7 linked regions of the Homo sapiens genome follow. The protein of the gene in region 1 purifies or fractionates together with the protein of each later gene. This does not show direct contact. Each region holds a gene or a part of one and is shown in the gene's direction. Other genes may lie near its edges.

What was found.
Region 2: the proteins of PLXNB2 (region 1) and DLK1 purify together in Homo sapiens (co-immunoprecipitation; one large-scale study listed by IntAct). This does not show direct contact.
Region 3: the proteins of PLXNB2 (region 1) and ZFTRAF1 purify together in Homo sapiens (affinity purification with mass spectrometry; one large-scale study listed by BioGRID and IntAct). This does not show direct contact.
Region 4: the proteins of PLXNB2 (region 1) and SLC22A3 purify together in Homo sapiens (affinity purification with mass spectrometry; one large-scale study listed by BioGRID and IntAct). This does not show direct contact.
Region 5: the proteins of PLXNB2 (region 1) and CD9 purify together in Homo sapiens (co-immunoprecipitation; one large-scale study listed by IntAct). This does not show direct contact.
Region 6: the proteins of PLXNB2 (region 1) and SPAST purify together in Homo sapiens (co-immunoprecipitation; one large-scale study listed by IntAct). This does not show direct contact.
Region 7: the proteins of PLXNB2 (region 1) and MST1R purify together in Homo sapiens (co-immunoprecipitation; one study listed by IntAct). This does not show direct contact.

What each region holds. Positions count from the first base shown.
Region 1 is NC_000022.11:50,287,147-50,290,646, reverse strand, and holds part of PLXNB2 (plexin-B2 isoform 3 precursor), read left to right. Parts: intron 1-49; coding exon of another isoform or gene 50-62; coding exon 63-1,130; intron 1,131-1,504; coding exon 1,505-1,687; intron 1,688-1,775; coding exon 1,776-1,904; intron 1,905-2,609; coding exon 2,610-2,710; intron 2,711-2,853; coding exon 2,854-2,980; intron 2,981-3,382; coding exon 3,383-3,500.
Region 2 is NC_000014.9:100,729,892-100,733,391, forward strand, and holds part of DLK1 (protein delta homolog 1 isoform 1 preproprotein), read left to right. Parts: intron 1-2,150; coding exon 2,151-2,292; intron 2,293-3,500. UniProt on the Homo sapiens protein: May have a role in neuroendocrine differentiation.
Region 3 is NC_000008.11:144,452,872-144,456,371, reverse strand, and holds part of ZFTRAF1 (zinc finger TRAF-type-containing protein 1), read left to right. Parts: intron 1-2,911; coding exon 2,912-3,150; intron 3,151-3,500. Other genes in the region: TMEM276-ZFTRAF1 (uncharacterized protein LOC157542 isoform 1 precursor), read left to right, coding at 2,912-3,150.
Region 4 is NC_000006.12:160,445,878-160,449,377, forward strand, and holds part of SLC22A3 (solute carrier family 22 member 3), read left to right. Parts: intron 1-1,841; coding exon 1,842-1,941; intron 1,942-3,500.
Region 5 is NC_000012.12:6,224,400-6,227,899, forward strand, and holds part of CD9 (CD9 antigen), read left to right. Parts: intron 1-1,026; coding exon 1,027-1,135; intron 1,136-1,739; exon of another isoform or gene 1,740-1,961; intron 1,962-3,500. UniProt on the Homo sapiens protein: Integral membrane protein associated with integrins, which regulates different processes, such as sperm-egg fusion, platelet activation and aggregation, and cell adhesion.
Region 6 is NC_000002.12:32,070,056-32,073,555, forward strand, and holds part of SPAST (spastin), read left to right. Parts: intron 1-3,500. UniProt on the Homo sapiens protein: ATP-dependent microtubule severing protein that specifically recognizes and cuts microtubules that are polyglutamylated.
Region 7 is NC_000003.12:49,890,374-49,893,873, reverse strand, and holds part of MST1R (macrophage-stimulating protein receptor isoform 1 preproprotein), read left to right. Parts: intron 1-2,035; coding exon 2,036-2,116; intron 2,117-2,293; coding exon 2,294-2,475; intron 2,476-2,567; coding exon 2,568-2,677; intron 2,678-3,223; coding exon 3,224-3,389; intron 3,390-3,500. UniProt on the Homo sapiens protein: Receptor tyrosine kinase that transduces signals from the extracellular matrix into the cytoplasm by binding to MST1 ligand. Regulates many physiological processes including cell survival, migration and differentiation.

The sequences.
Region 1 (3,500 bases):
CGGGGGTCCTCTGGGTCGGGGCTCCCCTGACCCTTCTCTCTTCCCACAGGGTGCGGGGGGCAATGGCACTGCAGCTCTGGGCCCTGACCCTGCTGGGCCTGCTGGGCGCAGGTGCCAGCCTGAGGCCCCGCAAGCTGGACTTCTTCCGCAGCGAGAAAGAGCTGAACCACCTGGCTGTGGATGAGGCCTCAGGCGTGGTGTACCTGGGGGCGGTGAATGCCCTCTACCAGCTGGATGCGAAGCTGCAGCTGGAGCAGCAGGTGGCCACGGGCCCGGCCCTGGACAACAAGAAGTGCACGCCGCCCATCGAGGCCAGCCAGTGCCATGAGGCTGAGATGACTGACAATGTCAACCAGCTGCTGCTGCTCGACCCTCCCAGGAAGCGCCTGGTGGAGTGCGGCAGCCTCTTCAAGGGCATCTGCGCTCTGCGCGCCCTGAGCAACATCTCCCTCCGCCTGTTCTACGAGGACGGCAGCGGGGAGAAGTCTTTCGTGGCCAGCAATGATGAGGGCGTGGCCACAGTGGGGCTGGTGAGCTCCACGGGTCCTGGTGGTGACCGCGTGCTGTTTGTGGGCAAAGGCAATGGGCCACACGACAACGGCATCATCGTGAGCACTCGGCTGTTGGACCGGACTGACAGCAGGGAGGCCTTTGAAGCCTACACGGACCACGCCACCTACAAGGCCGGCTACCTGTCCACCAACACACAGCAGTTCGTGGCGGCCTTCGAGGACGGCCCCTACGTCTTCTTTGTCTTCAACCAGCAGGACAAGCACCCGGCCCGGAACCGCACGCTGCTGGCACGCATGTGCAGAGAAGACCCCAACTACTACTCCTACCTGGAGATGGACCTGCAGTGCCGGGACCCCGACATCCACGCCGCTGCCTTTGGCACCTGCCTGGCCGCCTCCGTGGCTGCGCCTGGCTCTGGCAGGGTGCTATATGCTGTCTTCAGCAGAGACAGCCGGAGCAGTGGGGGGCCCGGTGCGGGCCTCTGCCTGTTCCCGCTGGACAAGGTGCACGCCAAGATGGAGGCCAACCGCAACGCCTGTTACACAGGCACCCGGGAGGCCCGTGACATCTTCTACAAGCCCTTCCACGGCGATATCCAGTGCGGCGGCCACGCGCCGGTATGGGCCTCAGTGTGTTCTCGCAGGGCCCGGACTGCAGGCGTCCGTTCGTGGGTTTGCGTGTCCCAGCCTGCTGGGGAGGGTGCACGTGAGCAGTGTGGCCGTGGCTCTCGCCAGCCTGGGCGCTTGCGTGGGTGGGTGCCGCATCTCTCAATGCCATTCACGCTGGCGCCAGTCCCAGGCCTGTGTCGGGCACTGGGGAACACAACAGTGAGCACGGTGGGGCTCCCTGCCATGTGGGTTCTGTTCTCGGGGACGTGTGTAGGACGTGTGCCGGAGGGAAGGGAAGGGCCTGTCCCGAGTCTTGGAGCGCGAGTGGAGAGGGCCCTTCAGGACAGGGGGTCTGCCTGCCATTGACACGCTGTGGTCCGCAGGGCTCCAGCAAGAGCTTCCCATGTGGCTCGGAGCACCTGCCCTACCCGCTGGGCAGCCGCGACGGGCTCAGAGGCACAGCCGTGCTGCAGCGTGGAGGCCTGAACCTCACGGCCGTGACGGTCGCCGCCGAGAACAACCACACTGTTGCTTTTCTGGGCACCTCTGATGGCCGGATCCTCAAGGTTTGGCCCAGGCTGGGGCGGGGAGGCTCTGGAGGGCCCGTCTGTGCACAAGGCCCGTACCCTCACCGGCCTGCCCTCGCGCACACAGGTGTACCTCACCCCAGATGGCACCTCCTCAGAGTACGACTCTATCCTTGTGGAGATAAACAAGAGAGTCAAGCGCGACCTGGTACTGTCTGGAGACCTGGGCAGCCTGTACGCCATGACCCAGGACAAGGTGAGCCAGACGCAGCCCCGGAGAGCACTCTAGGCCAAGTGTGCCCGGTCATTGCATCCCAGGCCCTTAGGACAGGCCTGGGGGCCAGAGGAGGATGGGGTGCTGCAGAGCTGGGCCCTTCTCCTTGGTCTGGATGAGGGGTGGCTGGGTGGGTCCCGGGCAGTGCCTCCATCCTGTGTCTCTCTAGCACTGCCCCGTCTCTGCCGCTCCTTCTGTTTGTCCTTTGTGGTCTCAACCATGTCTCTCCCTCTGGCCCCGCCTCTGCCCTGTCCTGATGGAAGGGACCTGGGTTGGTGTCTGAGGCGTGTTGCTGAGGGTGGATGGGAAGACGGGGTCCCTGCACAGCCCATGTGAGCTCAGTCAGTGGAGAACATGGGCCTGGGCCCCAAGCTTGTGGGGGGTTAGTGCCAGAGACCCTCAGGCCAGCCCTAGGAGCACCCCTCGGAGGGAGCCAGTGTAGAGGACAGGAGCTGCCCCGGGAGACACCATAGCCAAGACCTCCAGGCTTCCCTGGGCTCCCATCGGGATCCTGGGCCAGGCATGGCCACCCAGAGCCAGAACTGTTTAATATCAAGCCTGAGGTGTCTGAGGCTCCCGAGGCCCCGGGACAGAGCTGGGTCAAGCTGGCGGTCTGGGGACATCTGGGGTCTGCGGAAGGCCCGTGCGGCCTCTGCTGTGGTCCCACTCACGGCCCCGCTGCCCTAGGTGTTCCGGCTGCCGGTGCAGGAGTGCCTGAGCTACCCGACCTGCACCCAGTGCCGCGACTCCCAGGACCCCTACTGCGGCTGGTGCGTCGTCGAGGGACGGTGAGTGCCTGGGGTGGCTCGGGGACACGGCCTGCCTCTGGGATCCCGGAAGGTCGTGGCCTGGGTCGGGGGGCACATCGCACTGTCCTGTCCCGGGAGAACAAGACTCCACCCTGGGCTGAGGCCGCCCCCTGCGCCTGCAGATGCACCCGGAAGGCCGAGTGTCCGCGGGCCGAGGAGGCCAGCCACTGGCTGTGGAGCCGAAGCAAGTCCTGCGTGGCCGTCACCAGCGCCCAGCCACAGAACATGAGCCGGCGGGCCCAGGGGGAGGTGCGTGGTGGGTCTGGGGTGGGGGTCCTGGGCCCCAGGCCGGGCCAGGTGGGGGCTCCCCCATGCTGGGAGCTGTTGGGACAGGCAGGGGAGGGCTCCACATCTCCCCCGCCTGGGCTCTGGGCACCGAGCCTTAGGGATGGAGCCCGCCCTCCATTGGTCCCCTGGACCCCTATGACCTGGGCGGGCAGGGGTGGGGCTTGTCCATATCCAGGGTGGACTCAGGCCCTGTCCCAGGAGTTGCTGGGGTGACCACAGAGAGGCCTGTATTGGAAGACGTGGAGTCGGGTTCTGGAGGCTCCACTGGGACGTGCGCCCACACACGCAGGGAGGTCGGGTCACCGGCAGGTGGGCTGACAGGACTCGGGGTTCCCAGTGTGAGCGGCACGGCCCCTCCCTCAGGTGCAGCTGACCGTCAGCCCCCTCCCTGCCCTGAGCGAGGAGGACGAGTTGCTGTGCCTTTTTGGGGAGTCGCCGCCACACCCCGCCCGCGTGGAGGGCGAGGCCGTCATCTGCAACT
Region 2 (3,500 bases), on another chromosome or scaffold:
CAGATAGGGAAACTGAGGATCAGAGAAGCACAAGTGTCTGCTAAGGAATATGAAAGAAGTTGGGCAAAAAGCCAGCTACAACCCTTTCCCCCAGCCCCAGAAAGAGAGTTAATTTTTATCTTCGATTGCATCTAACATCCTTCCTTAAGGAACACCTAAGAGCATTTTGTTGTGGCCCCTGCCCTGTACAGCCAGGGCAGCCGTGGTTCTGAAGCTGAGCTCCCTCCCACCCCAAATTGTCTCTGGTCCTTAATTCCAGCCCCTGCAATATGGTGCAAGGTTTACCCGCAGCTGACTCATGCTCTGGCCAGCATCTCTGCTGCCCCTCACAGAAGCAGCGGCAGCAGCTCTGAGTCGTTTGAGGATCTGGGGGATTCCAGCAAAGCCACCATTTGGGATCAGGGTTAGGCTTTTAGCTTGGAGCCCATCTTTTTGGTATCTAAATGCCGTACACCCTTGCTGAAATTTTCCGGACAAATGCCTCCCTTCTCATGGGCCCTTGGTATGTCCCCTCCCCACCAAGTTGACAAAGGCAGCCAGCTTGGGGATGGCCAGAGAGTCTGGGGTCCCAGAGAAGACATAGCCCTCCCTCTCCCTTTTTGCCCATCTTTGAGGCTGTCGTGGCCACAGCTGCTGTCCCAGCAGAGACCCCCAAGCAGCCTTTTCCTCAGAGCAGCTTAATTCACCCCTGTCTTGGGGTTGGAGGCTCAGGAGGGCTGATCCAGGATTGGCATAGCAGGGAGAGCTGCAGGGACAAGCTGGGGGTGGTCGCCAGCTTTTTAGCTTAAATTTAAGATTCTGAGTGACAGGAGAGTCGGGTGCAGAGAATAAGGAGCCTGACGCGGAGGCGCCACGTGCTAATGCCTTGCCGGTGCCGTCCCGTAAAGATAAATCCTCTTTATGTGTCCTTGCACCAAGCCGGGCTTCCATGGAACACCACGGGGTAGTCCATCAACACAACGTTCAGGCTCTTCCTCCTTGATTGATTGCAGTCTCCCCTCCACGAGGGTGTGGGTCTCTCTGAGAGGGGGAAAAAATACGCACATGTGTGGCCTCAGCACGGGGGATTTCCCCTCCCCCCACCCCCTCCAGCCTGCCTTAGCTTGCTGTGTCTCTCACTGGCCCTGGCTTTCTGTTTGGCAGGTACAGCAGCTCAAATTATAGAAAATCAAAGCTGAAGAGTCCCTCAGAGATTGGCCAGGGAAAGACCCTCTTTTTATAAGTAGGGAAACTGAGGCCCAGAATGGGTAGGAGCTGAACTCTGCTGCCACATGGCAGCAGGCCGGATACAGGGCAGGACAGGGGTCCCTTCCTGGCCCCACTGGGGAGCTGGGGTCTCCATCATCAGAGAGCCCCTGACTCAGGCCCTTGTGTTCAGCTCATCCCTGGCTTGCTGAACCTGAATAATGAAGTGTGCGTGATGGAAGGTGTTAAAAGATGGTGGGAATATACCAGTGCTCATGGAAACCTGTGCTGATAGGAGAGCGCTCAATAGTTCTAATTTCCCTGGCTTTAAAAGATGAAGCCTTTTTACCAGGGACCCCTTGAGTTCAGAGCCTGAGTGCAGAAAGAGAGACCACAGGGACACGTGGTAGTGCTGGGGTTAACAGGTTTCTTGATTCCTGACGGAGGGGGGTCGTTACATCTCCATCCCCCCCACTGCCCCTCTTTGATGGAAAAGTATGAAGAGCTGGTGGTTTTTCTGAGGGTTGGGCTGTATTCATCCCCCGGCTGGCCAGGACCCCTCCCCTAACAGGAGAGGGTGGAGATGCAGTCTTGTCTGGTGGAGACAGGCCTTAGGGAATCTCAGCTAGGCACGCTGTTGCAGGGAGGGGCATGATGTCCACAGTGAACGTCACGGACATGTCGCTGGATATGGGGTGACCTGGTGCCAGGCAAAGGGAACAGCTATCCTGGCCTGAATATCAGTGGCCACGACTTTCTGATCTGTGACCTTAGGCAAGGAAACCCCTTCAGCTTCCTGAGCCTCAGCTTACTCACTTCATGGGTTTTTTTGAGGGGGCTCCCTAAACCCTCTTACTCCAGACCCCACTCGGTGGCCATAGAGCCATTTTAAAGCCCACTGGGGCCCGCATCACGCTCGTGTATGGAGAGGAAGCTAAGTTCTCGTCTTCCCCGTCACCCCGCAGATGTTCGGGCCTGCTCCTCGGCCCCCTGTGCCAACAACAGGACCTGCGTGAGCCTGGACGATGGCCTCTATGAATGCTCCTGTGCCCCCGGGTACTCGGGAAAGGACTGCCAGAAAAAGGACGGGCCCTGTGTGATCAACGGGTAAATATCCTTCCTGTGTGTGATCTAATGAATGCTGCTTTTCATGCGGCCACCAAAGACCCTTTCAGCCTAACCCTGCTGGACCTGTCGTCTGACAAAAGATGAAGTAAGCGCTCATCCTGGCAGCCCCGTAGGGGACCGCCCTGGATGGGAGTATTCACGGGGGAATGTGTCATTGCCATAATTTTTTCAAATGATCCTGAAGGCGATTTCATATTCCCCTGATGTTCTCAAGTCCCGATGCGTGTGAGTGACAGTCGATCGGAATGATGAACTGACACTCGGAGCTGCGTAATTTTCTAAAGGCAACGTAGTAAAAGATTGGAGCTCCGCGGGGCTGAGGCTGTTTGTGAAACCCACTTGCTGTATCTCAGGGGGTGGTTTTGGGGAACTGGTGGGCTCTGCAATTGGATTTTCTGGGATGTCTGTGGAGGGAGTTGCCAGGCTGAGAGGTGAAGAGATTGGGCTTCTGCCAGCACGAGAGGAGGTGGGCCAGCTGTCGGCTATCCTCAGTGGGGAAGGGGGCTTTGGGACTCCTGGGCAGCGGACATAACAGACAGAGTGGCCACTGTCTTCACTTGGACCTCCCTGAACAATGCTTCCCAGCAGCTCAGCCTCTGCCCACCCATTATCTCTTTGGCGGCCCTGAGCCATCCCTCCCCGCTGGATGGGGCTTAGCCTGAAGCCAAGGGAGATCTTGACAGAGGCAGGGTCCGAATGTAAGAATCCAAACTTGAACCCAGTCCTGGGCCTGTAGTTGGGGGGCAGGGGTGTCCCTTTCCTCTGAAGAAACAGAAGCTAACATGCAAATAAGCTTATCTTGACCGGACATCGCAGGGTGGCACAGAGACCCCAGTAGTCTGTAAGAGCTGTAAACAGACATTAACGGGGCTTCCAAAGATCAGTCTTCAGACGGGGTCAGAGTGGGGGCTGGTGAAGACTGAACTCCATTTCTGCTTATTAGCAGGAAGGAGAAAAACAGAGCGAGACCTTTAAAATATTTTGCTTTTCTCGCGAATGGACTTAAACCAGTGTGTCAAAATAGAGCCTAAGGCCCTTGAAATTCCTTCAGAGCCCAGCTCCCATGCAGCCCACACCCTGAAGCAGCAGTGCTGATTTCTTGTGTTTACTGCCCCTTCTTCCCCGGAGTTTTGCCATTTATCGGATGACAAAGGGCTCGCTCGTTTAAAAGCACTTACATTAAATGC
Region 3 (3,500 bases), on another chromosome or scaffold:
AGCTGCCTGTGGCCTGGCCTTGGTGTAGAGCCAGAGTCTTGCGCAGGGGCTGAGGGGACCCAGATGGTGGGGAGGCTCCGGAGCATGTGACCAGGGACCGTCCTGCTGTGGACAGACCTCCTGGGCTGAGTGTTGGTCGGGACCGGGCCATGCACCTAGAGATGTCCTTTGACCAGTGGGGAGGGTCTGGGGGTGAGTGTGGCTGTGTCCCTTGGCTACTGGGCCAGTGTAGTCCAGGGCACTCTAGGGACTCCCTGTGTTCTGACTTGAATGGAGCTATTGGGGCTGAAGGGGCAATGGCCCTGTGTCTCCTCGGAGCTTGCAGGTCCTCTTGGAGGCCCAGAGAGAGCCAGAGGAGGGCAGGGTCACTGCTGCCTCCTCATGGTATGGAATTGACTGAGCCCATGCTGGGATCTGGAGGCCCCAAAGGAATGAGGCCTGTGGCCAGGGGCCGGCCCAGGAGCTGGGGTGGCTTTCGGGGGAGAGGCCCGCAGTGCTGGGAGGTAAGTGGTGATGTGCTTGGCAGCCTCAGTGCTCCCTTAGGAGGGTCTAGGACCCCACCTCGAATCTTCCTGGGCTATGCAGAGCCAGGAAGAGAGGCCAGGTGGCCTTGGTGGGTGGCATTAGATGCTCCAGCCCTGCCTGGAACTCCCTTGGGGGTCGGGCCACAGCCAAGAAGAGTGCTGTTTTGCCTGTGCTAAGGCCACTGTACGTGCAGAGCTGGACCCAGAACCTCGTCCAAGGCCCCCGGCAGTCTCACCAGGAGGTGTTTAGAGCTGGCCACGTGGAGTGGCATACCTCCGGGGGGCGGGGGGCTGTGAGAGGACAGTGGTGTGGGCCCTTGGTCTGTGCCTCCCACAGGACAGCTGCTTCAATAGCATCTGTGCCCCCTCCTGCCTGTAGTCCACCCACCACTGACCCCTGGACTTGGCTGGCGGATTTTCACACCTTCTCCTGGGGGCAGGTCTCAGCTTGTCCCCAACCCAGTCAGAGCCAGTCTCACTCCCTGCCTCAGGCAACTGTGTATGTTTTAATTTTTATTTATTTATGTATTCATGAGATAGAGTCTCACTCTGTCTCCCAGGCTGGAGTGTAGTGGCACCATTTCGGCTCACTGCAACCTCCGCCTCCCGGGTTCGAGCCATTCTCCTGCCTCAGCCTCCTGAGAAGCTGAGATTACAGGCGCTCGCCACCATGCATGGCTAATTTTTGTATTTTTAGTAGAGATGGGGTTTCACCATGTTGGCCAGGCTGGTCATGAACTCCTAACCTCAGGTGACCTGCCTGCCTCGGCCTTCCAAAGTGCTGGGATTACAGGCATGAGCCACCGCCTGTAATTTTAATTTTTAACCAAACTGAGAACTTGAGGATTGAATGCAGGTAACGGGTGGTGTTCATGTGGATGTGGATTCCATGAAAGAGGGCTTTGTCCTCACTGTCGGTTCTCCACATGTAGGTCCTTTGACTCAGCAGGCCTTAGGCCTAGTCCACAGGTGCTGAGTGAACAGCCCCAGCGTCTGACAGCTCCTTAGCTTGGGGTGCACAGGCAGCTGAAGCAGTAGGATGGCAGCTCAGACTTCCCAGGGCCCCACGTGTGCAGGGCTGGCCTCCCAGCACCACCAGGCAGGGCCGGCCTCCCAGCGCCACCAGGCAGGGCCCTGTGAGTGTCCCCTCCCTGACACACACCTTGTAGAGAGGCTGGGCCTGGGCAGGCTGCTCTGCTGCACCACATCCCATTCTCAAGAGGGTCCCAGGTCCCAAAGGAAGCCTGTAGCCCAGTGGCTTTCTGGAGGTTTGCATGGCTGGCAAGCCTGGGCCGGCTGCTGGAGAGGCATCAGGACAGGAGCAACTCTGCTGACTGCTCCCCTCAGCGAGCTCTAAGAGTCTTTGGGTGGGAGGCACATCACATCCCTGTCACTCCTGGCTGGCCCTGGAATGCCTCAGCCCACACACCCCACTCCAGCCAGGGCTGTGGGAACTGTGTCTGCTCAGGTACAAAAGGCTTTGTTTGTTCTTGGACCTCTTGGTTCTGGTCTGGGCTTCCCACCTCCCATGCTGTGAGCCCCCACGGGCTGGGACCGCAGCTTGCCATGTGTCTCTCAGTGGCACCAAGTGGACGCTCGAGGCTTATGTTGAGGGAGTGAGAGCCAGGATAGGCCACTGGGCGTGCTGGGAGCCCACACAGGCAGGGAGCCCAGCGGGAGGTGCCCTGCTCCTGCCAGCCCCGGTTACCCCAGCAGGCTCGGCACCCACTCAGAGCCCCCATTTCTGCTCCCCAGGCACTCCCTGTGTGCCTACCTGCCCTTGTCCTTGTCCTGGGCCAGCTTGGCTCCTGCCTCCCAGCTCTGAGGAGGTCTCTGCAGGTAGCCAACCTCCCTGGACGAGGGGGCAGCTGCCTCCTCTCACCTGGGCTCACCCTGAGCCAAGTCCTCTCAACCCAGGATAAATGGCCTTTCTGAAGGCCCAGAGAGCATGCCTGCCCCAGTGTGGGAGCTGCATCCGCTCCCCACCTGACAGTGATGGCCAAGAGCCCAGTGTTCCTGGAGGGCTCCCAAACTCTGGACCTGTAGGGGGGTCAGGGCAGTCGCTGGTCCCTAAGGGAAAAGCGTGACCCTCGGCCCCAGGTGGCTGAACCCGTCACTGCCAGGGCGAGCTGTCACCTCTGTGAGCTGATGAGGCCTTGCTTTTAGGACCTCTAATCTCTGCAAGAACCCAAGCTGGCTCTGCCTGTTTCTCCTGAGCAGCTCGCAGTGTTCACCACACTCCAGCACGACTCGGGACAGGCACGTGCGCCCCTCTGCACCAGCTGGAGTCCCTCAGGACACCTGGCTGGAGCTGATGGGCATGGGCGGGTGTGTGCGAGCATGAGCCCGCAGGTCTGTGAGCTTCGTCTCCCTTTCCTTCTTCGCAGTGTACTAATGGTCACTTGATGTGCGCTGGCTGTTTTATCCACCTACTAGCAGATGCCCGGCTGAAGGAGGAGCAGGCCACGTGCCCCAATTGTCGTTGTGAGATCAGTAAGAGCCTCTGCTGCCGGAACCTGGCCGTGGAGAAAGCCGTGAGCGAGCTGCCTTCAGAGTGTGGCTTCTGCCTGCGCCAGTTTCCCCGCTCCCTCCTGGAGAGGCACCAGAAAGAGGAATGCCAGGACAGGTAACTGAGGGTCAGGGGCTTAGCCTTACAGGCGGGGCCCAGGACTGCTGGGAGCCCACCCTGGTGCAGCAGGGCCCTGTGCAGGGTGGTCTGGCTGTCTCTGCTGTCTGGGCCTTGGGGACCACCTGTGTAGCCCAGTGACGGCCCTGTGGGAGGGTGCCTGCACAGGATGGGGACAGGTGGGTTTTGCACCCAGTTGTTATCCGGACATGAGCCTAGCCTTCCAGTGCTCTTTGTGGCTGTGGGGGAGCCCCTTGAAGGGCCCAGGACAGCGTGTCCAACGCAGGACCTCAGGGAGCTTGGTGTGAGGGTACACTGCCCATGGCTACCCATCCAGTGGAGGCAGCCAC
Region 4 (3,500 bases), on another chromosome or scaffold:
AAATAGAAACCAGCAGGCTCAACACCGCTGAGCTCAGGAGGGAAGAGTGGCCTTGGGATGAAGAGCTGGAAGCCACCTGGCAGTAGAGAATGGTTGAAGCTGAGGGAGTGGCCCAAGCCCCCCAGAAAATCAGGACAAAGCAAGAGGAAAGCAGGAGGCCTAGGACAGAGACCTGAGGGGTGGCAAAGTGACAGACCTAGGCAGAAGGAGAGGAGGTGGCCAAGGAAGTGGAAACCAAGTGAGAAGCCCGAGGCAGGAGGGCACGAGACCAGGTCCAACCTAAGGACTGAAAGTAGCACATGTGGATCTGGTGGCCAGCAAGAGGCAGAAGGAACCTGACTGGAGCAGAGCCAGGGAGAATATAGGCTGAGTCTGGAGGAGGGCAGGCAGAGGCAGGACCTGGAGCATGGTCCTATGCTGGTGCTGGCACCTCCCACTCACCAGGGCCAACTGCTACCATATTAGTTCGTTTGCCACTGCTATAAATAACTGCCCAAGACTGGGTAATTTATAAAGAAAAGAGGTTTAATTGACTCACAGTTTCACATGACTGGGGAAGCCTCAGGAAACTTACAATCATGGTGGAAGGGGAAGCAGGCACGTCCTACATGGTGGCAGGTAAGAGAAGAGCAAGGAAAATTACCACTTATAAATCCATCAGATCTCATGGGAACTCACTCACTATCACGAGAACAGCATGGGGAAACCTCCCCAACAATCCAGTCACCTCCCACCAGGTCCCTCCCTCAACATGTGGGGATTACAATTCGAGATGAGATTTGGGTGGATAGACAGAGCCAAACCATATCAGCTACATTTTCAAGAATTTTGTAAGCCAGTCATCAAGCACAGATATCATCAAAAAGTAAAGAATATGAAATATATGAGAAATAGAGGCAATAAATGCCCAACACTCATCAGTCCCTAATTCAGCTACTACACCTTCAGTATTACCTGTGCTCCTGAGATTGTGTCTGCTGCATCTTTATGGTGGAAGCCCCATTGATGGGGCTCCTGCATCACTTCCCAGTGGCCCAGGCAGGGATGTTGTGTCAGTAGCCTGAAGGGCCCACAGTGGGAGCATTTAAACCATGCACATTGGCAGATGCTGCCAATCAGGGCTTGATTGCCCAAAGAGGGTTGTTAGGCATTTACCAGCACACCACTAGGCTACAAAGAAGTGGAGAAAATAGGGGAGGGTGGCTTTTCAAGAAGTTTGGCTCTAAAGAGCAGAAAAAGAAAGGATGGTAATGGAAGGATGAGGTGAGATTGAGAGAAGGCTGGTCAAACAGGAAAGGTCTGAATGTGTTTGAAAGCTTCTCCCAATAGGTTGAAGATACTGGAGGAAGGGTTGATCCCTACAGTGAGGAGCCCAAAGAGACAGGCCTAGGAGAAGGCTGGTCCCGGAGTAGACACCAGGACAAGCTTTCCACTGTAAGGTAACAGGAGGAATCGGAGGGAGAGGGGCAGGTAAGTGAGAGTGTCAGTGAGCGGGCGCAGAGGGGACTCCCCTCCAGCACTTCTGTTTCCCTGTGATGCAGGAGAGGAGGCCTTGGGTGTTGGACCCTAAGAAGGAACTCAGTCAATCACTGTGAGATGTGTGAGTGAACACATGGCTGCCAGGTATACAGGGGCCGTGGTGCTACTCAGGGTTTGAGGAAGGGAGAGAACCTTTGAAGCTGTGGTAAGGGAGAGCTGGGGCATTGATCTGGGATGCAGAGGTTGCTGTGGTTGAGAGCTACTCCAGTGAGCAACATGATGGCTTCAGAGTGAGCAGGCCCCATGGGAGAGGGCCCAGCTGTGTCTTCCTGGAGCGGTAACACCTTTCCCCTATTCCATAGGTATCCTGGCATCCATCTGTGGTGGCCTTGTGATGCTTTTGCCTGAAACCAAGGGTATTGCCTTGCCAGAGACAGTGGATGATGTAGAAAAACTTGGCAGGTACTGTACAAAATTCAATGCACCCTAAATAAAAGCAATATTTAAAACCACGGGGGAAAGAATGACATTGAGAAAATTGAATATCCACAGGGAAAAAAATAAGAATAAATCCTCATCTCATATTGTAAGCAAAAAATTCAAAGTAGATACAAAAGGTTAACATAAAAAAAACCCTCCAGAGCTAGATAAGAGTATGCATTGTTTTTTTTAATGTGGTTGTGAAGAGAGAAGCATTTTCACATAAGGTGCTAAGACTCAGAAGTGATCTAAAGGCAGGAACTGCTGATGTGGGAAAGTGGAAATTGCTGGGACATACAGCAGCAGGGGATTAACAGTGTGGCTTACTCTACAGAGTGAGGATGCGTCAGGTCTGTCTAGATGGAATGGCATAGGCAGGTTTTCAAGACTGACTACAAAGTGAAATGTCACTGAACAACATGTTATAGTATTTATAAAAAACTAAAACCAAAGGTGTTTTCTCTCTGCAGCTGGATAGGAAGACAGATGACACACAGATGATAGATAATAGGTAGATGATAGATAATAGGTAGATGGATGATAGATAGATATAATAGATGATAATCATAGATAGATAAGTGATAGTAGATAAATGATAAATAATAGATGATAGATGATAGATAGATACAGATAGATAAATAGACAGGTAGATGATAGGTAATGTCTGGATAGATAGGTGGATAGATAAATAGATAATAGATGATAGATAATAAACATTAGTAGGAAGATAGAGAGATTGAGTTTTGGAGGGGGGTGTTTAAATAGGGTATAAGTAAAACTAATACCCAGCCAATATATTAACATGAGGAGTAATGTCAAGAAAAATTCACATTACACAAATTCTTTCTAATTGTTTGAAATTTTTTCATTAAAACATAGAGATATGAATATGAGAATGTATAGTACAAGATGTAAAATATTAATATGTGCCCTCTGTGGACACAAATGGGCTGGGAAGAGGGGTAGGGAAGGGAGGACCATCACTTTCTTGCCAGAGACTTCCATACTGTTTGATTTTCTTTAAAAATTAGAACACGTAGTCTTGTGTTGCTTGTGTAGTTTTAAAAAATGATGTAACAGCTAATTTAACAACTAAAAAGCAATCTTAATAATGACTTAGGAATTAAGAACATGGAGCTCTAAATATTTTTAATATATAAAAAATCCTGAGGAACAGCTTTCTTCCCTTTGATTCTATTCCACTGACTGCCTTCTGTTTACACAATGAGAGTGATGCTTTCATTCTTTATCCCCAAACCAATCAGGATCAGATTTGCAAACTCATCAGGAAAAAATGGAAGAAAAGGGAGTCCTCTGAAATCAAGACTTTTCTACTGCTTCAGTAACATTAAAAATAAACAGCTAGGAGAGGTTTTTTTGTTTTTGTTTTTGTTTGTTTTTGGCTTGGGGAGTGTGGGTGGAAGGGGGTTGTCTAAATGGTGTGCAAGGAAAATCAATACCCAACTAACATATAAACATGAAGGATTATACCAGCAAAAATTTAAGGTACCCAGATTCTTTCTAATTTTTTTCTGTTTATA
Region 5 (3,500 bases), on another chromosome or scaffold:
TGGGTGGCCCTTCCCACTATTGCCACATCTGCTGTCCACCCAACATGCCCACACTCACTGCCATATCGTAAGGGAAAGGAGAGGAGGAAAGGAGGAAGGAAAGAGAGGCCTGTCCACACCATGGGCTATCAATAGCTCCTGGAGCCGAGAACCAAGGTCCCTGATGAGCGGGCTCTGACATAAGAGTGCCTCTGTTGAGGAGGGTGGACCAGCAAAACCTGGGCCCACCCACTCCTGCGTCCAGCCGGCTACCACACTGGAGGCCTGTGAGTCACTCCCCCGGCAAGCCCTGGTACGGGTGACGACGAGGGAGCTCAGCTGGCACTGGGGGGACTTGGCAGGAGGCCTCCTGCACAGCATCTAGTTCAGCAGTGCCAGCGAGGGGAGGCCCTGGCATGTCATTTACTGAGCAGCAGGTCTCCAGGGACATTGCAGCTGCCCTCCCTGGTGCATGTGTGTCCGGAACTGTGTAACCATCACCCAAGTCAACAGTTAGAATACGACACCCCCAGCCACATGGCACCTCCCTGAGCATAATTTCCTCCTCCACCTAAACATCACCACTCACCTGATAACAATGCTTTTCCTTTATCATTTATAGGCACATGTAAGCGTCTAGCTCTGTGTGCATCCCTAAACAGCATAGCGTTTTTAACTACATGGAATCATATTGTGTGTGTGCCTGTGGCTCTGGCTTCTTGGTTTAGCATTGTGAGATGCACTCATGGTGTTGCGTGTAGCTAGAGTTACTCGTTTTCACTGCTGTATAGTGTTCTGTTGCCTATAAAATACCCCTTCAGCCAATGGGCGGCAGGTAGGTCACTGTTTATTCCTCGCTTGCTGGTATTTTTAGTACCTGCATGAATCAAACACACCCCGTAATGGCATCTACAACTACCAGGCGTATATGAGGGGCAGAGACCAAGGGTGGTCACAAAGTCCTTTGCAAGTCTCACCCTTAAGCGCGTGGGGACTGTGTTGTTGCTGGCAGCCAGAATTAATGCTGATGTCCTGTATGTCTTGCAGCTTGCCGGGATTGCTGTCCTTGCCATTGGACTATGGCTCCGATTCGACTCTCAGACCAAGAGCATCTTCGAGCAAGAAACTAATAATAATAATTCCAGCTTCTACACAGGTGAGGGACGGGGAAGGCTCAGTGAATTCAGACCCTGGCTCCAACAAAGTTCCTGCAACTTTGGAGGCCCCATGTTGACCCAGGGACTTGGGCTTGGGAAAGACTTTTGCTCTAGCCACGCTGGCCAGTCGTGTCCCTTTCAAGTTGTGCAGTTTTTGTGTGTGTCGTTGTGCCTGGGAATTTGCGTTTAACTGATGTGGTTTCTTTTCCTGATGGCCAAGTCAGGCATGTTGATGGTTCTCTGATGTGATGTAGCCTCTGCCAAAGTTGTACTCATTCTTGAGGGTTTACGAACCTCTGTTCTCATCTCTGATGCTCTCTCCTGATTGTCTTCTTATCCTGCATCATTTCCTTAATTCAAAAAGCTTTGTCCTGGGGATCTGCAGTGCTGGAAGAAGATATAGACAGCTTTCCTCTTCACTGTTCAGATAGGGACTCTGAGACTGGGAAAAACATCAGCCTCCTGGAAAACACAGCAACAATAGGAGAGACTAGAATGGACTCTGCCCAGTCCTTTGGACCCCTGGTACTGGGGTAAATGCTGTAGTGTTTAGTTTTATTTGTTTGTATTTGACACGACTTTTGCTTTGGGAGAGAGGCTTCCAGTTTAAACCTGCCTGGGATCCTCTGAACATGAACAGACTTGGCAGGTTTCTTTCTACACTCAGGCTTCTTGGCAGCCTTGCTAGACCATTCTATCCCTCTCGTTGCCGTATCACCACGTCAAAGCTCCCTTCAGAGGAGGGGGAGCCTGGTGCCTGCCAAGTGCAGTTGCCCGCGTCTGCGTGAATTCAGACTCTGCGGCTGTACTCTGCCTGGCTTGGAGGTAGGAAACTTTTCATTTGTGAGGAACAAAGGAAACCTCCTATTTTTAGGATGACGCTGACATGTTGTCAGGCTCAAAATGTAAGTTTGGTCACTTCCTTCCCACCCACCAAAAAAGTTATTTTTACAAACGAGGGAGAAAACAGTTATCTCCCAGTCCCTCAGGGAGAAGCAAGGCTGGCCAGCCACGTAGACCTTCCCTTTCCCACCTCTTGAACTGGGTAGGGAGAGTCTTTAAAAACAGCTCCTTTGGTTGCGTAACATTTGAGCCCTGTGGATAGTTTTGCTGGGTTTACTGCTTTTTATTGTTAGCTGGGGTTTTTTGGGGTGTGTCTCTCTATTATCGGAAAGAAAGTGAGAGAAAGCACAATGTATGTTTAGAAAAAAAACTACACATACACACAGAGTTTTTGGGGAACAGGTTTCTATAGCGCCCTGACTTGTTTTGGCAACAGACCATTTTTTGGGAGTCTGTGACAGGCTTAGAATGCTGTCCTGCAGAGCAGGAGGGAGGAGCCGGGTGCGGGTGCTGGGGAAGACTCTCCACACTCCACGCCGTGTTCCAGAAGGGAGCCCTGTGCTGGGGGAGCAGGTCTGCCGGCAGGAGCAGGCACAGTCAGGCCTGCTTTCCTAAGCAAAAGCCCTGTGGCCGGCGCGTGTGTCTCCAAAGAGAGACTCAGTCCTCCCTTGTCCTGGCTGCTTCTAACAACCCACTTTTTCTTTTCTGTTACCCAAAGCCTCTATGGCTGATTCTTTATATTTTTAGATGTGGGAGTTAAGAATCTCATGGGTAAGAGGATGGAACTGGGAGGAAGACACTAACATTTTTATTTTTTATTTTTTTTATTTTTTTTTTGAGACGAAGTTTCAATCTTGTTGCCCAGGCTGGAGTGCAATGACACAATCTCGGCTCACCGCAACCTCTGCCTCCCAGGTTCAAGCGATTCTCCTGCCTCAGCCTCCTGAGTAGCTGGGATTACAGGCATGTGCCACCATGCCCAGCTGATTTTGTATTTTTAGTACAGACGGGGTTTCTCCATGTTGGTCAGGCTCGTCTCCAACTCCCGACCTCAGGTGATCCTCCCGTCTTGGCTTCCCGAAGTGATGGGATGACAGGCGTGAGCCACCTCGCCCGGCTGGAAGACACTAACATTTTTGAGCCCCCTTCTTTGTGTGTCATTCATTGTCTTGTGTGTATTATATAATTTAATCCCCTTAGCTCTACGAGGAGTGTGGAGTGATTCTCATCTCACAAGTGCAGAAACCGAGGCCTAGAGAGCTGAAATAACTTGTCTAAGCTTATATTCCCTCAAGAGGCAGGGCCAGGTTTTGAACCCAGGCCTAAAAGAGCTGCTTCTCGGGTTGTCATTGCCAGGTTGTGGGGTCTCCCTCTGTAGGAATGGAAGAGGTCTGTACTGGCTGAATGTGCCCCATTGGCAGGGATGGGGTGGCGCTGTCTTGGCCCTTTTACTTCACCCAAATTGCAGTCAGGGAGAGAAACCCCTGCGTCGGTGGCCCAGCCAGCAGCTGACAGGTGGGA
Region 6 (3,500 bases), on another chromosome or scaffold:
AAAAAAAAAAAAATTTTTTTTTTTTTTTGTAATGGAGTCTTGCTCTGTCACCCACGCTGGAGTGCAGTGGCGCAATCTCGGTTCACTGTAACCTCCACCTCCCGGGTTCAAGCGATTCTCCTGCCTCAGTCTCCCGAGTAGCTGGTACTACAGGCGTGCACCACTATGCCTGGCTAATATTTTTGTATTTTTAGGAGAGACAGGGTTTCACCATGTTGGTCAGGCTGATCTCGAACTCCTGACCTGAAGTGATCCGCCTGCCTCAGCCTCCCAAAGTGCTGGGATTACAGGTATGACCCACTGCACCCAACCCATACTCAAATTTGACACTGAATTTTCATAAAGGCCTTAATTTATCTGAAACCAAACTATTTCAAAAGAGGAATAGCACAGCAAATTCTGTTGACTTAATGAGAGGATATGTGAAGTCTATTTATTAAAGCAAATATTAATTGGAGGCCAGTTAATTTGTACAGCTCTGCATTTTAGATATTTGAGAAATATTTATTTCCTCTCCAGTGAGATGTGTTAAAACATTAGTTATGTGATTAACAAATATGTGTACATACGTATATATGTACATACACATTTTGAGACAGGGCCTTGGTCTGTTGTTCAGGCTGGAGTGCAATGACACCATCTTAGCTCATTGAAGCTTCAGCCTCGCAGGCTCAATCGATCCACCCACCTCAGCCTCCCTAGTAGCTGGGTCTACAGACATATACCACCATGCTTGGCTGATTTTTTAATTTTTTGTAGAGATGGTGATCTTGCCCTGTTGACTAAGTTGGTAAATATTTTAATTGTTGAACTTTCTTGGAAGACTGAAAACCTGTGATAGCCATTTTATATAAGGAGAAGCTGAAGTTCAAAGAGTAGACTCATAGCAGAAACAAAAATAGAATTTAAGTGAATGGACTCAAAATATTGTACTTTTTACTTTATACTGCAGGTTTTTATGTTGTAATGCTGGTAATGAGCTCCTTGGAATATTTGGAGGAAAAGAGAAGGTTGTAATAATGGTTCTTTGGATTTACTAGAACATATCATGTTCTGCATGGCTCCTGTGGGTAGACAAGCCGGAAATCTCCTGGGTAACACAATGGTGGAGGTTCTCTAGGTGACGTTTGATTTCTCAAGTACATAGGACTAAACAGAAAAGGCCTAGTATGTTATATGAATGAGAGATCAAGTTTCTCAGGATATTCTAGGGCTAAAGGATCAGGCATCGAAGACAGAAATTGTCTAAATAAAATTTTTTCTATTCATAGTTTTAAAGGGCTAAAGGGTCAGGCATTGAAGACAGAAATTGTCTAAGTAAAATATTTTTCTGTTCATAGTTTTAAGCTGTGTATATGTGCATGTGTGTATTTAAAATAACTTCGTCAATGAAAAGAGTCAAACTCTGTAAAATATTTGAAGAGATTTATTCTGAGCCAAATATGAGTGACCAGTGGCCCATGACACAGCCCCAGTAGATACTAAGAACATCTGTCCAAGGTGGTCAGGCTATAGCTTGATTTTATACACTTTAGGGAGACATAAGACGTCAGTTAAACATGTAAGATGTACATTGGTTCCATCTGGAAAGGCAGGAAAACTAGAAGTTGGGGAGGCTTCCAGGTCGTAGGCAGATTCAAAGATTTTCTGATTGGCAATTGGTCAAAAGAGCTTATCTAAAGTCCTGGAATCCATAGAAGGGAGTGTCTGGTTTAAAATAATAGGTTGTAGCTACCAAGGTTTTTATTGTACAGATGAAGCCTCCAGGTAGCAGGCTTCAGAGAGAATACATTGTAAATGTTTCTTATGAGACTTTAAAAGGTGGCAGACTCTTAAGTTAATTTTCTCCTGGTTCAGGTAAAAGACTTGGAAAGGGAAAGGATTCTCTACAGAACGTAAATTTTCCCCACAAGAGAAAGCTTTGCAGGGCCATTTCAGAATATGTCAAAGAAATATAATTTAGGGTAAAATACTTCAATTTGTTTTATTTATTTATTTATTTTTTGAGACAGAGTCTCGCTCTGTTGCCCAGGCTGGAGTGCAGTGGCATGATCTCGGCTCACTGCAAGCTCCGCCTCCTGTGTTCACGCCGTTCTCCTGCCTCAGCCTCCTGAGTAGCTGGGACTACAGGCGCTGGCCACCATGCCCAGCTATTTTTTTTGTATTTTTAGTAGAGACGGGATTTCACCATGTTGGCCAGGATGGTCTCGATCTCTTGACCTCGTGATTCACCCGCCTCGGCCTCCCAAAGTGCTGGGATTACAGGCGTGAGCCACTGTGCCCGGCCTCAAAATACTTCAATTTCTTTCATGGCCTGCTATCTGACGTGATGCTGTACTAGAGTCAGGCTGGGAATTTGGCGTCTTATTGCTACAAAACATCTTAATATCTCTGTTTTAATGTTAATGCTGATCAGTTGTCCCTGAATTCCAAAGGGAAGAGGGTATATGAGTCATGTCCAACCCCCACTTCTCATTATGGCCTGAACTAGTTTTTTAGGTTAACTTTGGAATGCCTTTGGCAAGGGGAGGGTCCATGAGTCAGTTGGGGGTCTTAGAGTTTTATTTTTTGCTTACCGGTTTATAAAAAGTTAATGAAAATTATCATATTTCATAATTCTATATAATTCAATATTGTACTTTATTTAAAACTCACGTATAAAATAGCTGTCCATATCTGTTTTCAGAAGATGAGGATGGAGGGTAGAAATCAGAAGTGTCAGATTTGGTAATTTTCTTACACTGCTGAAAACCTATACCTACCACTTTGAAAGGATTAATTTCAGACTTGCTTTCTTTGGGCCTAATGATTCTACTTTGAAGTTTCTCTGATTAAACTAAGGAATAAATCTGATAAATGGACATTCAGATGATACCATACTTTTCCAAAAGATAACATTGCTTTTGATTACATATGCAATAAACATTTCACATTTTTTCTCAAGATTATTTACTGGCATCTGCACCAAAGACACAAAAAAGCAGCCACTGTTAAGGACTTTATCCCTTGTTCTGTTTTTAGCTGGTTTGTTGTTGTATTTTTCCTCATGTTGAATACAGTTAAACCCTATTAAACTGGATTCCCCATATTACTGTTAGTTGTCCTGATGACAATTAAGGATAGTTAGTAAATGGATATTGAATCATTTTATTTTTTTAGTAGTGATGGCGTTTCGCTGTGTTGGCCAGGTTGGTCTCGAACTCCTGGCCTCAAGTGATCTGCCTGTGTTGGCCCCTCAAAGTGTTAGGATTACAGGCGTGAGCCACTGCACCTGGCTGGATATTGAATTATTGAAGAAGGATGTTCCCTAACACTTCCTGCCTCTTTTCCGCTGTCTTACTCTCTCTGTTCCACCCAGTAGTAGTTGGGTTTTTGATGTCTGGCAAAGTATAGATTGTCTACTCTTCTATATTAGTTTTCTTCACTCTTTTTTTTAAAAATGTTTTTAAAGCAAGATAGAGACAGGGTCTTGCCGTATTGCCCAGGCTGGTCTTGAACTC
Region 7 (3,500 bases), on another chromosome or scaffold:
AGGCTGGAGTGCAGTGGCGCGATCTCGACTCACTGCAAGCTCCGCCTCCCAGGTTCATGCCATTCTCCTGCCTCAGCCTCCCAAGTAGCTGGGACTACAGGCGCCTGCCACCGTGCCCGGCTAATTTTTTGTATTTTTAGTAGAGATGGGGTTTCACCGTGTTAGCCAGGATGGTCTCGATCTCCTGACCTCATGATCCACCCGCCTCAGCCTCCCAAAGTGCTGGGATTACAGGTGTGAGCCACCGCGCCCGGCCTATTTTATTTTTTCAAGATGGAGTCTTGCTCTATCACCCAGGCTGGAGTGCAGTGGTGCAATCTTGGCTCACTGCAACCTCCCCCTCCCAGGTTCAAGCAATTCTCCTGCCTCACCCTCCCTAGTAGCTGGGATTACAGGCGCCCGCCACCACACCTGGCTAATTTTTGTATTTTTAGTAGAGATGGGGTTTCACCATGTTGGCCAGGCTGGTCTCAAACTCCTAACCTCAGGTGATCTGCCTGCCTTGATCTCCCAAAGTGCTGGGATTACAGGCGTGAGCCACTGTATCCAGCCTATTTATTTATTTATTTATTTATTTATTTATTTATTTATTTTTGAGACAGAACCTCACTCTGTCACCCAGGCTGGAGTGCAGTGGCATGATCTCAGCTCACTGCAACCTCTGCCTCCCGGATTCAAGTGATTCTCCTGCCTCAGCCTCCTAAGTAGCTGGGATTACAGACGTGCACCACCAAGCCCGTCTAATTTTTGTATTTTTAGTAGAAATGGAGTTTCATCATGTTGGCCAGGCTGGTCTCAAACTCCCGACCTCAGGTGATCCGCCCGCCTCGGCCTCCCGAAGTGCTGGGATTACAGGCGTGAGCCATCGCACCCGACCCTGCTTTATTTACTTATTTATTTATTTTTATTTTTTTGAGACAGAGTCTCACTCTATTGCCCAGGCTGGAGTGCAGTAGTGCAATCTCGGCTCACTGCAACCTCTGCCTCCTGGATTCAAGCATTTCTCCTGCCTCAGCCTCCTGAGTAGCTGGGATTACAGGGGCCTGCCACTGCCACCACACCTGTCTAATTTTTGTAGTTTTAGTAGAGACGGGGTTTCATCATGTTGGCCAGACTGGTCTTGAACCCCTGACCTCAGCTGATCCTCCCGCCCCAGCATCCCAAAGTATTAGGATTAAAGGCATGAGCCTTTTTTTTTTTTTTTTAATTTAAAAAAAAGACAGCATCTCACTATGTTACCCAGGCTGGCCTTGAACTCCTGGGCTTATGCGATTCTCTTGCCTCAGCCTCCTGAGTAACTGGGATTACAGGCGCACTGCGCTTGGCTTCTGCTGCTTTTCTTTGAGGGGGATGGAGTCTCGCCCTGTCTCTCAGGCTGGAGTGCAGTGACACGATCTTGGCTCACTGCAACCTCTGCCTCCCGGGTTCAAGCTATCCTCCTGCCTCAGGCTCCCAAGCAGCTGGGACTAGAGATGGGGTTTCACCATATTAGCCAGGCTGGTCTCAAACTCCTGACCTCGTGATCCACCCGCCTTGGCCTCTCAAAGTGCTGGCATTACAGGTGTGAGCCACTGCACGCAGCCCTGCTGCTTTTTTAAAATGTCAGATTGGGCCGGGTGTGGTGGCTCACACCTGTAATCCCAGCACTTTGGGAGGCCTAGGTGGGTGAATCACAAGATCAGGAGTTTGAGACCAGCCTGGCCAACATGGTGAAACCCAGTCTCTACTAAAAATACAAAAAAATTAGCTGTGTGTAGTGGCAGTTGCCTGTAATCCCAGCTACTCAGGAGGCTGAGGCAGGAGAATCACTTGAACCTGGGAGGCAGAGGTTGCAATGAGTTGAGATTGCACCACTGCACTTCAGCCTGGGCAAGAGTGAGACTCGGTCTCAAAAAAAATAAATAAAAATTAAAAATAAATAAAATGTCAGATTGGCCAGTTTAGTGCTCTGAGGTCTGGTTGCCAATGAGAATGTGTGGTGTGAGCCTTGGGCCCTGGATCCCCTCTCATCGACTCATTATGCACCTCACACCAGGCCACTTTGGAGTTGTCTACCACGGAGAATACATAGACCAGGCCCAGAATCGAATCCAATGTGCCATCAAGTCACTAAGTCGTAAGTGGGGCAGAAGATGGGAAGGCAGAGGGAGGGGCCTCAGGCTGGGAGGATTCTTTTTCTCTGTGTTCCCACCTTACTGAGTGACCCTGAGCAGGAGACCTTCATTTCCCATTTCCCCATCTGAGCCTTATAAAGGGACGCCCTGCCCTGTGCCTGACTTGCGCTGCTCTGCAGGCATCACAGAGATGCAGCAGGTGGAGGCCTTCCTGCGAGAGGGGCTGCTCATGCGTGGCCTGAACCACCCGAATGTGCTGGCTCTCATTGGTATCATGTTGCCACCTGAGGGCCTGCCCCATGTGCTGCTGCCCTATATGTGCCACGGTGACCTGCTCCAGTTCATCCGCTCACCTCAGCGGGTCAGTGTTCATCTGGCTCTGGGTTGGGGGCTGGGCAGCAGCTGGAGAAGGAGCTGCTGTGCCCTTGCCCACCAACCCACCTGTGCCCCCAGAACCCCACCGTGAAGGACCTCATCAGCTTTGGCCTGCAGGTAGCCCGCGGCATGGAGTACCTGGCAGAGCAGAAGTTTGTGCACAGGGACCTGGCTGCGCGGAACTGCATGTGAGAGTCCAGAGTAGCTGGGGTGAAGCAAAAGGACAGGGCATGAGGGTGTGCGGTGCTCAAGGCCGCCTCAGGGAAGGGCCCACTCCAGCCTTGTCCTCCCCTCTCTGCACCTTACTTTTTTTGTCTGCCCAGTGCAGACTTGGACTGGACACTGTGGCTTTGAAATTTGGCCAGGCGCGGTGGCTCACGTCTGTAATCCCAGCACTTTGGGAGGCTGAGGAAGGCGGATCATGAGGTCAGGAGATCGAGACCATCCTGGCTAACACGGTGAAACCCCGTCTCTACTAAAAATACAAAAAGATTAGCCAGGCGTGGTGGCGGGCCCCTGTAGTCCCAGCTACTCAGGAGGCTGAGGCGGGAGAATGGCGTGACCCCAGGAGGCAGAGCTTGCAGTGAGCGGAGATCGCGCCACTGCACTCCAGCCTGGGTGACAGAGCGAGACTCCGTCTCAAAAAAAAAAAAAATTCTGTAAGGGCCTAGAACAGGTGGGTTCAGGGCCTGGTAAGGGCCAGTCCTAAGTGTGATCCTCTCCCTACCCCTAAGGCTGGACGAGTCATTCACAGTCAAGGTGGCTGACTTTGGTTTGGCCCGCGACATCCTGGACAGGGAGTACTATAGTGTTCAACAGCATCGCCACGCTCGCCTACCTGTGAAGTGGATGGCGCTGGAGAGCCTGCAGACCTATAGATTTACCACCAAGTCTGATGTGGTGAGGCCCCACCTGCCCTACAGTCCACATGGCTTTGGCACCCAAGAACACTGGGCCTCACCCATTCAGCTCTGAATGATCTGAGCCCAGGGAGTCCCCAGGGTAGATGAC